Homo sapiens: one gene and its partners. The protein of the gene in region 4 interacts with the protein of the main gene of each other region in a biochemical or structural test. Each region holds a gene or a part of one and is shown on either strand. Other genes may lie near its edges.

Region 1 (3,336 bases), on a different chromosome or scaffold from region 4:
CTAAGCTCCGATGTTCTTACTGTGAAGAAGCCCCATCACTCTGATGGCTCTATCTCTTGCTCTCCTACCCAGCCTACATGCTGGTTTGCTGCACAGTGTGGCAGAATCCCTGCCAGGTCTGGATGTACCCCAGAAATAAGGCGATGGGGCTTAGTCTGGGCATGCACAGAACCCAGAGTAGAGTGGTTATTATCACTGAAAAGTCTCTCCCCAAACACCATGGGCAAAAGCAATGCTGATGTCGCCATCCACTCTAAAGTGGGAAACCAACTCTTCTAGTTCAGTTTATAGGCTTTGGGAGGTTTCTTTTTTTAAATCATCGTTATTATAATTGTTAAAAAATAAACTTGGTCCAGGTGCAGCTCCAAGAAAGGCAGTTCAGTTGGTTGAGCTCAAAGTCATTAATTGTCTTTCCTTGTGACTCTATCTCTTTGCTCTGTACATAGAAACAAAAAAGTCTGCACCCCCTCACCCCCAACCAGACACTTCTCTTCTCTCTCTTCCTCAAAGAAATAGTGCATCTAGGAACAGATCTCTCATTGGCTCTAGTACCATCTCTGGATGTTACAAAACTCTCAGTTACTCTGTAAAACAAAAAGGTACTAATCCTAATTACTCATTGTTGGCCAAAATGCTAAATGGTCCTTTAAGAATTGTATGTCAGTAACTAGGAACAAAGTTATTCAACTATTTGCATGGCAGGCTCAGGTTATTTAACTAGAGGAAAGCAAAAACTTCCCTTTAGATCATTTGCATAAGTTTGTCTCTGAAAAGCCATCAGCATAAAAAAATGCATTAACCAAATGTCTTCCAAAAATATCCATGAGGGCAACTCATTAAGGGATGTGCTGCATGAGAGTGTATCACTAATGTGGAAGGGAGGTAAGTGAGGAAGAAGTCTTTGTCAGACTTAAAAGGAACTCAGATGCTCTTAACAGATCATTGGCAACAAAAGGGAGAGTGCAACTTTCAGGTCTTGAATTTGATCATCTGCTGATGTTGCATACATTTAGTCTTTCAATATTAGTCTTTACAAAATATTTCACAAAACTTTTTTAACCTATAGAAATTTGTTTCTATACATTTAATATATTTTTATTGTATAAATTATTCTCATCTTTAGTGCCTTCTTTCAGTTTATAAATGGCAAAATAGGCAATCAACAATCATAAAGCTAATCCCAGGTGGAATCCCCTCCTGTCAGTGAGGTTAGTCCTCCATACACTTGCAAATTTTATGAAATTCTTGTCTTTGCAGATGCCAGTCAAAAAACTACACACTTATCCTTCCCTGATAGTATGTCATCTCCAAAGGGATTCCTTTCTTTTTTCCTTCTTTCTTTCATTTGCTTGTTAAGAAATCAAAAGATGTGCATAGTTATAAAATTCAAAGTGTACCAATTACAGATGTGGGTAATGGGAAGGCTGATGAGGTTCGAGTGCTGGCAATTTTTCTTTAAAGCAAAAGACACAGAGAGCTCTGCAGCTAAATCAGCTCTGGACATCTGCTGGGGTGAGGAGGCTCTCATCTCATCTCTTGGGCAGAAAGCCCGTCAGAGGTTCATCCCTACACCTGGCACTTTGAGCAAACCAAAGCCTTCCTTCATACTGCAATGTCTTTTCTGTCCCACCCTTTGGCCCCTCTGTTTCCTTCATGGCTTCATACAGTTTGTGTTGTACATTCGTAAGAATTCACATTGACTGCAAAAACATAAATGCAACAAAAACATAAAAGCCTCCAAGTAGTATGTTATATATATTTTGTTCTTCTAAATGCTCTTCTGTCGTTGTCAGAGGCGCAGTAGCTAATTTATAACTTTTCCTTTGAGGGAATCCAGATGAAAGGCCCAGATTGCTCTTCAATAACAAGCTTGCATTGGTTATATATATCTTCTAAAGTATCTCCTTGGACAATAGCTGTAACAAAAGCAAACACACCCAGAATTAGAAATAATTTCCTGGATGGTGAAGAACAATCATCACTTACACATTGGAGGCTCAAATCAGTAGCAGATGACTCATCAGGAAGCTTCATATCATTTTTCATTAGTAAGAAGAAGCAGAAAATTCATATAAGCAAAGTTACATTCATGATTTTAAGAAATGCTTTCAATGGATATCCTGGATCAGTAACAAATGATTCACAGTCTTTGCACTTTCTACATGTCTGTCTGTAGTACTGGACAATTTATCACTCATCTATTTAACCAATATTTTATGGGTGCCTACTCTGAGCCAGGCACTGAGCTGGGCAATGATCAATTTTCAGACTGAGAGCTCCCTATTTAGAAAAGAAAACTGGCCTTACAGTCTGTATATTTACTTATTTTGGCAGCAGCAGAAATTCAGATATTGTAGACACCGAGGAAATAATGAAGATTTTAGAGGGAAGTTTAGTTAGCCTCCCAACCCTCAAAGCCCTTAATAGGAAAACCCATTAATTCCCCAAATCTCTGGTAACTTGAGATTTTTACCATACAGAGCTATTCATATTGAGAATACCATAAGTCCACTATTTATAAGAAACATAAACAGGAAGAAATATAAACAAACTGCTCAGTTGTGTATCTCCTAAAACACTAAGTCACTTGGAGTAGATTTAAGTACATTTTATTGTCTCATTTGAACAAAAGTTATCTTGTAGAAAGATTTCCAAAACACATCAGTATTATCCATATGACACTAGGTCTTAAAAATAAATTACTACTGAAAGATGATTTAGATATTTAAAAACAATCCTCAGAATATATTATTGTATTGTATACAAAATATAAACCACTGTCAAAATGTACACTTTTGTTTCTCCTACCTGGATGTTCTTTTAGGATGAAACACAGCTCGTATCTTGGTTACTGACAGAAAGATTACTTAATATTACCTGATTCAAGATATTTACAAACTGCTAAGGCACTGACACTTTCTATATTCTGAATAAGGTAAAAAATAAAACATCTAACTTCACATATGGTAATCCAGGAAGAAAGTTCTTGGGTTTTTTTTTTTTTTTTTTTTTTTTTTGAGACAGAATTTCACCCTTGTTGCCCAGGCTGGAGTGCAGTAGCACGATCTCGGCTCACTGCGACCTCCACCTCCTGGGTTCAAGTGATTCTCCTGTCTCAGCCTCCCTAGTAGCTGGGATTACAGGTGCCTGCCACCACACCCAGCTAATTTTTTGTATTTTTAGTAGAGACGGGGGTTTCACTATGTTGGCCAGGCTGGTCTCGAACTCCTGACCTCAGGTGATCCACCCACCTCAGCCTCCCAAAGTGCTGGGATTAGAGGCATAAGCCCAGCTCGAAAGTTCTTGTTTTTAAACCTCCGGGAACCAGGTGTAAGG
Region 2 (3,500 bases), on a different chromosome or scaffold from region 4:
CCCTTATAAGAAAGCTCAAAGTCAACCACGTATTAAATTTATTATATATATATATATTCTTACTTTACACAATTATAATTACTGTTAATATACTTTGAAATTTTTTAAACTTTTCATACTGTTTTTAAATCTATACCTTATTTGATTTATATAATATATTCAGAGAAATTGCAAGTTCATACTCTGGGGCATAAGCCTCTATGTGACGCAATTGTGTGACCTAGCTCTAGAGTCCTCTACCAGAAAGTTAGACTCTGAAATTATCACTTGAAACATGCTTTGAAAAAGTCACAGTTATCTAAAGGTCAATAAAAAGCTTATCTCAAAACATTATTACATAGAAAAAAGTAAGTAGTAATTGGAATGCTGAAGTGATAGAAAATATTCATGGGTTGAGAATTTTGATATACATTAGAGGACAGCAGAGTTGAAGGAATAGTTTTGGGTTCTATGAAACTACTAGTCAGTCTAAAAATAAGAAACAAATGAATAAAATTCAAGATATGAATACAGAAGAATTTCATTCTACAGTTACCAATAAAATATCATGTTCCAATTACATTTGATTTTGGATATTGTGTCCCAAGCATAAATCAATCTGGCCACAAATAACTGAAATCGAGTTTATATATTAAAATCCTTAAGTTCTTAGAAAAAAGATCTTAGGTTAATCGAAAGGTAACATTGATAAGTTTCTGTTTATATTTCTGAAATGTATGCTTTTAGGTAATTTATGTTTAATATAAGTGGATGTTATAGGGAGAAAATGTTTGTTTCATAGGAAACAATTTCTTTAGCAACTCCTTATTACAAGTGGAAGTGGTGGCATCCAGAGAATATGTTATGAGAAAATGTATATTCATACTTTTACTTTAAAATGTTACATATTTTAATTTACTCTAATTTCATTTAAAAACGAAAGCATATATTATGAATAGGTAATTTAATCAAACTCTTTTTTGGAGGAAGGCTAATATGTTTTTATTATACTATAGCTGTAGATCTGGCTTCAAGAATTTTGAGGCCGGGCGCGATGGTTCACGCCTGTAATCCCAGCACTTTGGGAGGCCGAGGCAGGCGGATCACGAGATCAGGAGATTGAGACAATCCTGGCTAACATGGTGAAACCTCATCTCTACTAAAAATACAAAAATTAACCGGGCTTGGTGGCGGGCGCCTGTAGTCCCAGCTACTTGGGAGGCTGAGGCAGCAGAATGGTGTGAACCCGGGAGGCGGAGCTTGCAGTGAGCTGAGATGGCACCACTGCACTCCAGCCTGGGGGACAGTGTGAGATTCCATCTCAAAAAAAAAAAAAAAAAAAAATTTTGAGTGCATTAGCCTTTTTCATATGTGTTATTATTACATAAACATTAAAATTACCCTTCCTCTGTAATTAAAATGAAAAACCCACACACATTACAAAGTAAGGAGCTATATCTTTATTCTTAAAATGTATGTATTTGCTTATAGTAACTTAGGATAAAAAGTATCTTGAAATTACTGTATTCTTGTAAATGTTACTTGGAGTATTATGGGAAGAAAGTCAGCTAGTTGGATTAATTTCCTGGGATGTTTTTTCAACTCACTGATATTTATCATAACTGAACATAATGAAATGAGACATAAAAATTAGATTGCAGCTTTTATAGGTTTAATATCCATCAATGCTTAGAAAGCTGGTTAGACATAAAATGAATATTTATTCTAGGTTTTCAACGTTGACTTCAGTAATAGCAGGGGGCAAAAAAAAAGAATGTGCTTAAGGAGAAAATCTCTGGTTATTTTATAAACATACCACTCCGTTCACTGATAGCAGCTGGTCTCCTCTTTTGAGGCCTCCGTGTCTTTCAGCCACCCCTCCAGGAATTATGCGAGAGATATAAATGGGGGAATTTTGCTCCTTTCCTCCCATCACATTAAAACCAAGGCCTTCATCAGTCTTTGGCAGTTCAACTACTCGAGGGTGGGAGTGGCCTTCACTAGCTGCAAAAGCTGCAACTGTTGCCTGAAAAAAAAAAAAAAAGATGGTCTTTTGGTAATAAAATGAGGGAAATAAAGGCTAATCATATGCTTTGCAGTGGGTAGCTCAGGCAACTTCTCATATTTTTATAGTATTCTCCTGTGAAAGAAAGAACACAAAAAGCAGAGGACTTTCTTCATTTAGATGCCATCTAGGATTTCTTTCTTTGGTAAAGTCCCACTCATCTATTTCCAGCTTCCTAGGGCTTATCTGTTATGACAGAATTTTCCTGTCTTCATAAAAATCCTTTCCAGTTACCTTGGTTAGCTGCAATTCTTCCTATTCCTGGAGTCCAAATAACTTTGTTATATGTACTATCTACTATTATAATTATTTTATACATGTGTTGACTATGAGCACCTTAAGAGCAGAGATGGCGTCTTGCACTCTTTTGTATGACACAGAGTCTAATCTGGTGCTTGCACATAAAAGTTCATAAGTATTTTTTTAATAAATTGAAGAGCACTTGTATGTATACATACTTTTGAATACATATGTAATCTTGCTATTGCCAACCCAAAAGCTTAGCAAATTTAACTTTTTTAAAAAATTAAGGATGCCTTAAAGAGAATGAAAACTAAAATAAAATAATAGATTCAAACAGATTATTGTTAGCTTATACCAATATACCATATTATTATTCCATACTGAGAAATCTTATCTGGAACAGGATTTTTCTTCCTATATTATACATTAATATTTCAATTATTATAACAAAATAGGCAATATGAAGTCAATGATTTTATACCTAGATATACAAAACATCATTTAATATGGACATAATTTGTTTTAAAATTCATGTACTGATTTCATTAAATGAGTTCAAGAAAACAACTTACCATTAGTTCCCACTAACCCCATAGAAATAAAATAACAGCACTTAGGTAGTTTCTATCAAGAAATGATTCTGTGCCTGCTTATTTTTCACTTTTATTAATTCACCTTGATCACAGTTGATTAGATGCCTGCTATAAAGTGACTTACTCAACACTGTGAAAATATTTATTCCCAACGACTGTACCTTCTTTTCCACACACAGCATTATCACATCAATTTAGCATTATGCTACTGTCTGCATTTAGTGAAAGATAGTGAATGACATGAAAACAATGGCTTGTTTTTAGCTACATGCATTTGCTCATGCAAACCTCATTGTCATGCATAGATTTTAATGGCTGACATGGATGCAATGCAGACAGCCCAGAAACAACCAGAAAATACTGTGCTATTGCAACATTATGCTGCTATCCTGCTGTTCTACATGAATAAGAAATGAGAATGGTAAAACACTACACAATTCACTTTCCCCTTAATTAAACCACGTAGGGATCATTTTTCTGTGTGTGTTCCACTTCAGTACAAGCAAAGCATGACATGATGATAATAACACCCTCTTTTTTTCCCTGAGTTTAAACAAAACAAAACAAAACAAAAAAACCTTACAAATCTACAGTGTTCAGTTACAGAGTAAAAACTAAAA
Region 3 (3,500 bases), on a different chromosome or scaffold from region 4:
TTTGAGGTTGGAACAAGAGGCACGGAGCTTACAGTTGAGTTTCTTGGAATCTTTAAGGGCACGTAGGTTTCCTAGATGTCCTTGTCTCTTCCCACAGTGCCCAGGGCATTGATTTCCACGTGGTTGGTGATTTTCCTGGAGTGCTTCAAATAAGCACATGTTTTCCCAAGTATGATATCCTATCTCTGACAAATGGGTGGTGGGGGTCACCGCTTTACAGAGGAGGAGACAAAGGTGCCCAAGGATGGCACGCATGCCTGTGATCCTGCAGTCAGCATGGGTGAGGCTTGGGGACTCACACCCTGGCAGGTTCATCGTTTCCCCCAACCCCAAGCCCTCACCCTCCCACTGCCCGCGCTGGCCCCGCCCCCAGGCCCTCACCTGGATGATGGACTGCAGCTCCTGGTTTTTGGTCTTCAGCATTTCATTCTCCCGCTCCAGTTCCAGAACCTGCTCCTTCTTGGGCCGATTTTCAATGTCATTCTTCAGTTTTAGAGACTGATTTCTCTCCAGCTTACATTCCTCCTCCATCTTATTCAACCGGTGCTTTAGCTGATCGATCTGAAATACCCCAAGGGTGCCCAGGGGAGAAGGCAGGTGGCAAGAAACACTCAGAAAAGGCAACGCTTCCCCCGATCCCACTGGGCTGGCAGCATAACCTGAGTTATGCCCCTCTCTCCTTCTTCCACGGGCAGAGAAGGGCTCCAAGAAACCTTCTCCAGTAAAACAAACTGTCATCACCCTGTTGATGGAGAGTTCCTGATTAGTCTATTTAGAATAGCTCCAAAGGGGCTACAGGCCTCAGAGAAAATTCCCTCAACCTTTGTCAGGTGGGACAGGTTATGGATTTTGGGATAAAAGAGATCCAAGTTGGTGTTTCCCACTTCAACGCCCTTCTCTGATGGGTTTCAAATTCTGATCCTCGGAACTCAAGGATTCCCCTGAGGAATCCAGGGGTTACCCAGGGGGAAGGAGGAGATGGTTGACAAGTTGGGGTTCTGGGCATCCACACTGACTTCACATCCCAGAACAGCTCTGCTTGTGTGGTTTGTTCTTCTGGGTTTCACACAAGATTTTATTTGGATAAATAGCACTGTTGCTAAAAAGGAAGAGGAAGAGGAGGAGGAAGAGGAAAAAGAAGAAAAAACAGGAGAAGGAGGAGAAGAAGAAAAGTAGAGGAAGAAGAAGAGGAAGGGGAAGAAGAGAAAAGAGAAGAAGAGGAAGAGAAAGAAGAAGAGGAAGAGGAGGAATGAGAAGGAGAAGGAGAGGAGGAGGAAGAAGAGGAAAAAGAGGAAGAAGAGGAGGGGGAGAAGAAGGAAGAGGAGGAGGAGAGGAGGAGGAGGAAGGAGGAGAGGAAGAGGAAGAGAAAGGGGAAGAAGGAGAAGGAGAAGAAGAAAGAAGAAGAAGGAAGAGGAGGAGGAGAAGAAAGAAGAATAATAGGAAGAAGGAGGAGAAGAAGGAGGAGGAGGAGAGGAAGAGGAGGAGGAGGAGAAGGAGAAGGAAAAGGAGAAGGAGAAGAAGACAGCCTGAAATTCACTGAATTGTAATTTCACAGGATCTCCACCCTAAAGAACCTCCCTAGACTTAGTGGCAGAAAGAGTAGCTTCCTGGAGGAGGCAGCTATTGCATCTGGAAATGAGACAAGTGGAGATGTGCTGATTTTCACACTCAAGAGTTTAGTGTCAGGAACTGGGACCAGCAGAAGACTTCTTCAACCTGTGAGACTAACCTGTGTTCCTCCCCAAACACATCGGCTTTGCTAAAGTATCCCAAACAAGAAGGTTGCATTCGAGGGCTATAAAGAAAGGAGGCACCAAAGGGGAGAGTGTCATTTTTCAAATCTAGTCTTGGAAGGAGAATCATCTCAAGGAATCTGGCAGGTAGAGAGCAGTGGCTTTAGCAAGAAAAGACCAGCTCCTGCACCCCAGTGATTAACCTGAGACGATGAAGAAAGGGGCGTGCAGGAAGCAGCCCGAGGCCAAGAAAACCAGCCAGGGACTCTGCTGGCCAGATGTTCTTCCAAATTCTACTTACACTTTCTCACTATTAATGTATCTCCAGGGAAACATAACACAGGAGGAAGTTCCGGGAGAGAAACTTGTAAGTCTCTGCCACAGGGTAACTTCCCCAAATCCTAGGTAAAAACAGCATAGAAATCTCTCCTGCTCATGCAAAAAAAAAAAAAAAAAAAAAAAGCTCCTCAGCATCTTCAAAGCTTAACCCAAGTGTCCTGTGGTAAGTCCCGGGTCCCACACGAGCAGGCATGGGGCGCTAGCATTGTGGGGTGCTTACAGGGTCAGCCGCTCCGCCAAAGACCTACGGTTCAGTATCCCAGCAATCCTAGGGCACACGTATTACTTTCATTATTGACATCTGCAAATGAGGAAACTGAGGCCAATAGCTAAGTAAGTCGTAAAGCATAAAGCCAGAATTTGAACTCAAAGCTACAGGACTTACAAAGCTCATGCTTCTAACCAAAACACTATTGCCTGCTATGCCACTGACTCAATTCACCTGAATTCCCGGTGGATTGTTTACGGATCTGTCTGCTTCACTAAATTGTAAGTGACCTGAGCACAGCTCACGTTATTTATCCCCATGTCTCCCACAGTGCTTAGCACAGTGCCTCACACGTGGCAGGTGCTTAATAAATATTCTGTGAGTCTATTTTCCATCCAGCAGCCAGAGTGATCCTTCTCAGACATAAATCAATTGTCACTCTTCAGCTCTCAATCCTTCAGAGGGTTCTCATCACAACTAGAATAAATCCCAAAGTTCTTACCATGCCCCCATGATCTGGACCCCGCCATCCCTTCCACTCCCTTCTGCACCATTTGTTTATTTGGCTCTGGCCCCACTGACTCTCCTGCCATTTCTTTTCTCTTTCATTTGTTTCTCTTCCTTCCTTCCTTCCTCCCTCCCTCTTCCTCCCTCCCTCCCTCCCTCTTCCTTCCTCCCTCTTCCTTCCTTCCTCCCTCCCTCCCCTTCCTTACTCCCTCCCTCTTCCTTCCTTCCTCCCTCCCTTCCTCCCTTTCCTTCCTTCCTCCCTTCCTTTCTTCCTTCCTTCCTTCCCTCCCTCCCTTCCTGTCTTTTTCCTTCCTTTTTCTTTCTCTTTCTCTCTCTCTCCCTTCCTTCCTTCCTTCCTTCCTTCTAGTTCTTTCTTTTGACAGGCATGGCTCACTGCAGCCTCGACCTCCCAGGCTCAGGTAATCGTCCTGCCTTATCACCCCTAGTAGCTGGGACTACAGGTGCATACCACCATGCCTGGCTTATTTTTGTAGAGATGGGGTTTTGCCATGTTGCCCATGCTGGTCTCAAACTCCTGGACTGAAGCAATCCTCCCGCCTTGGCCTCCCCAAATGCTGGGATTACAGGTGTGGGCCATCAAGCTCAGCCTTCCTGCTGTTTCTTCAAAAACAAAAACAAAAACAAAAACAAAATGCCCCCTACTTATGGGCTTTGCGAGTGCTTTCCCCTGAGACTTGCATGGTTGGCTCCTT
Region 4 (3,500 bases):
TAGAGCAAATGCTTCTCATAGAGATGCTATTAGGAAATAGGTACCTCCTTCCTCAAGAGTTCTAGTTGTTGGGGTTTTAAGTCACGTAACTGTACATATTAGCAGGTAATAAGGGACAGGATGAAGGAGGGATGACCTTTAAACTCTTTGGATTTGATCTGCTTATATTAATTTTAGGGACGCAACTTCAGGATCTATAAATGATATTCAGGAATTCCTTTCATTGTACTTCTTGGCTGAAAGAGGTTTTGGTAATCGTGTTTGAACATGTAATTTATTCCTAAAAAACAAGGGTGTTTGCTTTGTGGAAATGAGAAGGCAATCAAAATAACCACCCACCGTATATTGAGCAACCAACCACAGTGTGTTAGGCATCATATTAGGATCAATACAGATACAATCAGAGTATTTTTTTTTTTTTTTTTGGAGACAGGGTCTTGCTTTGTTGCCCTGGCTGGAGTACAAGGGTGTAAGCATGGCCCACTGCAGCTTCCACCTCCTGGACTCAAGCTATCCTGCCATCTCAGCTTCCGAGTAGCTGGGACTGTAGGCACACACCACCATACTTGGCCAAATGAAAAAAAATTTTTTTTGTAGAGTCAGGGTCTTGCTGATCATTTGATCTCGAACTCCTCGGCTCAGGGGATCCTCCTGCCTTGTCCTCCCAAAGTACTGTGGTTACAGACTTGAACCACCTCACCTGGCCACAATAATCTTAATTCTGTGAAGTGAGTAGTGTTATTCCTAATTTACATTTGAGGGATTTTCAGCTCAGACTTGGCAGAGGTCTACCACTTACTATAACCCTGGCTGGTGTTCAAACTTAAGTCATTCAGATATCAAACCCATGCTCTTTTTTAACTACGCTAGTTATAGGTAGAACATTAAATGAGATGTAGATTATTTAGCACACTGCTGGAACTGCAATTTGATACATATATTTTGTTGAAAGTGGGTGAATAGCACTAGCTTTATATGTGAGTAATCATACTCTATGGTTGGGCTGTGTAAAACTTTTTATTAGGTGACTGTACAATGTTTATTTCAGATAGTGGCTTAAAAGCCACTTTTGTATTTATCCACCTGAATTATGCGCCTGTCAGTATACTGTTAACAGATGTCAGAATATGGTTTTTTTATGTGATTGCAGAGGGAGACTTCAATTCAGAATTTTATCCTTCATAACATTATAGTGATTTTAAAAGTTATATGCAGCAAATGTGTAGTATTTTTCTCATTTCAACTTTCACAGCAGTAGGCAGGTGGTTGTATCCCTTTTTTTATAGATTAGAAAAGTGGGACTCAGGAAAAGTTAGTTCACTTGTTGGAAATTCTGCAGCATATTAGGACTTAAATTCAGGTTTTCTGACTAAGAATCTGATGTTCTTTTTTATTTACATCATGTATATTGCATGCTCTTTATGTCAGGGCATGGTAATCAGATGATACATGATAGTCTGTGGCCCATTCAGTGTAGGCTTTGTTTTCCCCTGAATTTCTACTTCAAACATGCTTATCTGGCCGCTGTTTATGCAACTACTTTAAAAAAGGAACCATAAGGGAAAAATGAAGTCATACAGGAGAAAAACAGAAATGTAATTGTAGCCACTGATACAACCAAGCTCCTGTTTCCACTTTCTCTGGTCTTTTTGGGATTTTCTCCTTTTTGCCGTTACCCTGCCCTTTGATCCTATGTCCTTGCTTATGCTTGTTTTCATCAAGAAGAGTCTCAATGATATGCAGTAGAAAGAAACCATGGTCTGCTGTTTTGTGAAGAGTAGTGTGCCTTGACTTGGGGGTACAGGAGGAAGAGGAATGCAGAGGAGTGAGGATCATGGGAAAATGTTGAACTTTTCTGTTGGAGTTTCTTCGCCACTATGAAGGAAAACATTTTCCCATTAAAATAGAAATACTAGAATCATATACATAACATTTTTGGAATTTAATCCAAAACTTCATCTGTTCCGTTAAAACATACATAAAGAAAAGGAGTAATAAAATAGGTTGGGACTAATAAGCAGCAGATTATATTACTAAGATTTTTCACTATTACTGTAGTTAATTAGTTAGGTCTGGCTGATTATGGCTTTTAGAGCAAAGAATAGGATGAGGAAAATGCAGCTGTTTTATTATCACTAACAGAGATGTGGTGAACAATCCTCTTAGATGTTAAAAACGAAACTGACCCAGGAAGAGAGCCCTCATCAGTACCAGACCATGCTGGCATCCTGATCTCAGACTTTCAGCTTGTAGAACTGTGAGAAAATAAACTTATGTTATTTAAACCTAAATACATAAGTACACCTTTATCTCCTTTTTCCATTCTCTTTGTATGCTTGGGATCCAGGATACACAAATTGAAGTTACTTGTTTAATGATTTTATAACTATGTCAGAATTTAAGTTAAAAGTGAGTTACTCTGTATGTAGAAAGGCTGAAAATAGTACAACTGCAGTAATTCTGTCAGCTATAAGGGACGTGTGGACTGAGAGGGTAGTCTTAATAGATTGTGATCAACTATATGTGAAAACATTTTGTGTAGTGAGTTGATGTGTAGTTTACATGTAAACTAACTCCTTTAGTTCGAAAGGAATTTTATTTTACGTTAAAAGATTATTTTAGGCTGGGCTTTAGTGGCTCACGCCTATAATCCCAGCATTTTGAGGGGCTGAGGCAGGAGGATCGCTTGAGCCCAGGAGTTCAAGACTGGCTTGGGCAAATGGTGAGACTTTGTCTCTAAAAAAATTAAAAAATTAGCCAGGCATGGTGGTGCGAGCCCATGGTCTCAGGTGGGATGATTGCTTGAGCCCAGGTGATAGAACAAAACCCTATCTCAAAAAAAAAAAAAAAATTTTTTTTTTGTATGTATGTAACTCTTTACTTATCTACTACCTAATAATCCACAAAAATACCCACAAATCCTTAATTACGTGGAGGAGGAGGAGATGATAATAGAGATCATTTTAACTTTGAAAGATAATGGATTCCGGGCCAGATGTGGTAACTCACCCCTGTAATTCCCAACACTCTGGGAGGCTGAGGTGGGACGATAGCTTGAGTCCAGGAATTCAAGACCAGCCTGGGCAACATGGCAATACCTCATCTCTATTAAAAAAAAAATTATTAAGAAAGAAAGGGGCCAGGTGCGGTGGCTCACGCCTGTTACCCCAGCACTTTGGGAGGCTGAGGCGGGTGGATCACAAGGTCGAGGGATTGAGACCATCCTGGCCAACCAACATGGTGAAACCCTGTCTTTACTAAAAATACAAAAATAAGCTGGGTGTAGTGTTGCATGCCTTTTAGTCCCAGCTACTTGGGAGGCTGAGGTAGGAGAATCGCTTGAACCCGGCAGGCAGAGATTGCAGTGAGCCGGGATTGTGCCACTGCACTCCAGCCCGGGCGACAGAGCGAGACTCCGTCTCAAAAAAAAAAAAAAGAAAGATAATGGATTTGGTTCTGCCATTAGATCTGGGTTGGATCCTGGGTCTGCTATGGTTTCT

Evidence for each region. Proteins that work in one complex are often made in the same cells at the same time.
Region 1: the proteins of EGLN1 (region 4) and DLG2 interact in a test that uses a peptide from one of them, tested with the Homo sapiens proteins (one large-scale study listed by IntAct).
Region 2: the proteins of EGLN1 (region 4) and LIN7A interact in a test that uses a peptide from one of them, tested with the Homo sapiens proteins (one large-scale study listed by IntAct).
Region 3: the proteins of EGLN1 (region 4) and CARD11 interact in a test that uses a peptide from one of them, tested with the Homo sapiens proteins (one large-scale study listed by IntAct).

Annotation. Positions count from the first base shown.
Region 1 is NC_000011.10:83,458,009-83,461,344, forward strand, and holds part of DLG2 (disks large homolog 2), read right to left. Parts: intron 1,917-3,336; coding exon 1,810-1,916; 3' UTR 1-1,809. UniProt on the Homo sapiens protein: Required for perception of chronic pain through NMDA receptor signaling. Regulates surface expression of NMDA receptors in dorsal horn neurons of the spinal cord.
Region 2 is NC_000012.12:80,843,935-80,847,434, forward strand, and holds part of LIN7A (protein lin-7 homolog A), read right to left. Parts: intron 2,006-3,500; coding exon 1,796-2,005; intron 1-1,795. UniProt on the Homo sapiens protein: Plays a role in establishing and maintaining the asymmetric distribution of channels and receptors at the plasma membrane of polarized cells.
Region 3 is NC_000007.14:2,939,368-2,942,867, forward strand, and holds part of CARD11 (caspase recruitment domain-containing protein 11), read right to left. Parts: intron 562-3,500; coding exon 382-561; intron 1-381. UniProt on the Homo sapiens protein: Adapter protein that plays a key role in adaptive immune response by transducing the activation of NF-kappa-B downstream of T-cell receptor (TCR) and B-cell receptor (BCR) engagement.
Region 4 is NC_000001.11:231,415,788-231,419,287, reverse strand, and holds part of EGLN1 (egl nine homolog 1), read left to right. Parts: intron 1-3,500. UniProt on the Homo sapiens protein: Cellular oxygen sensor that catalyzes, under normoxic conditions, the post-translational formation of 4-hydroxyproline in hypoxia-inducible factor (HIF) alpha proteins.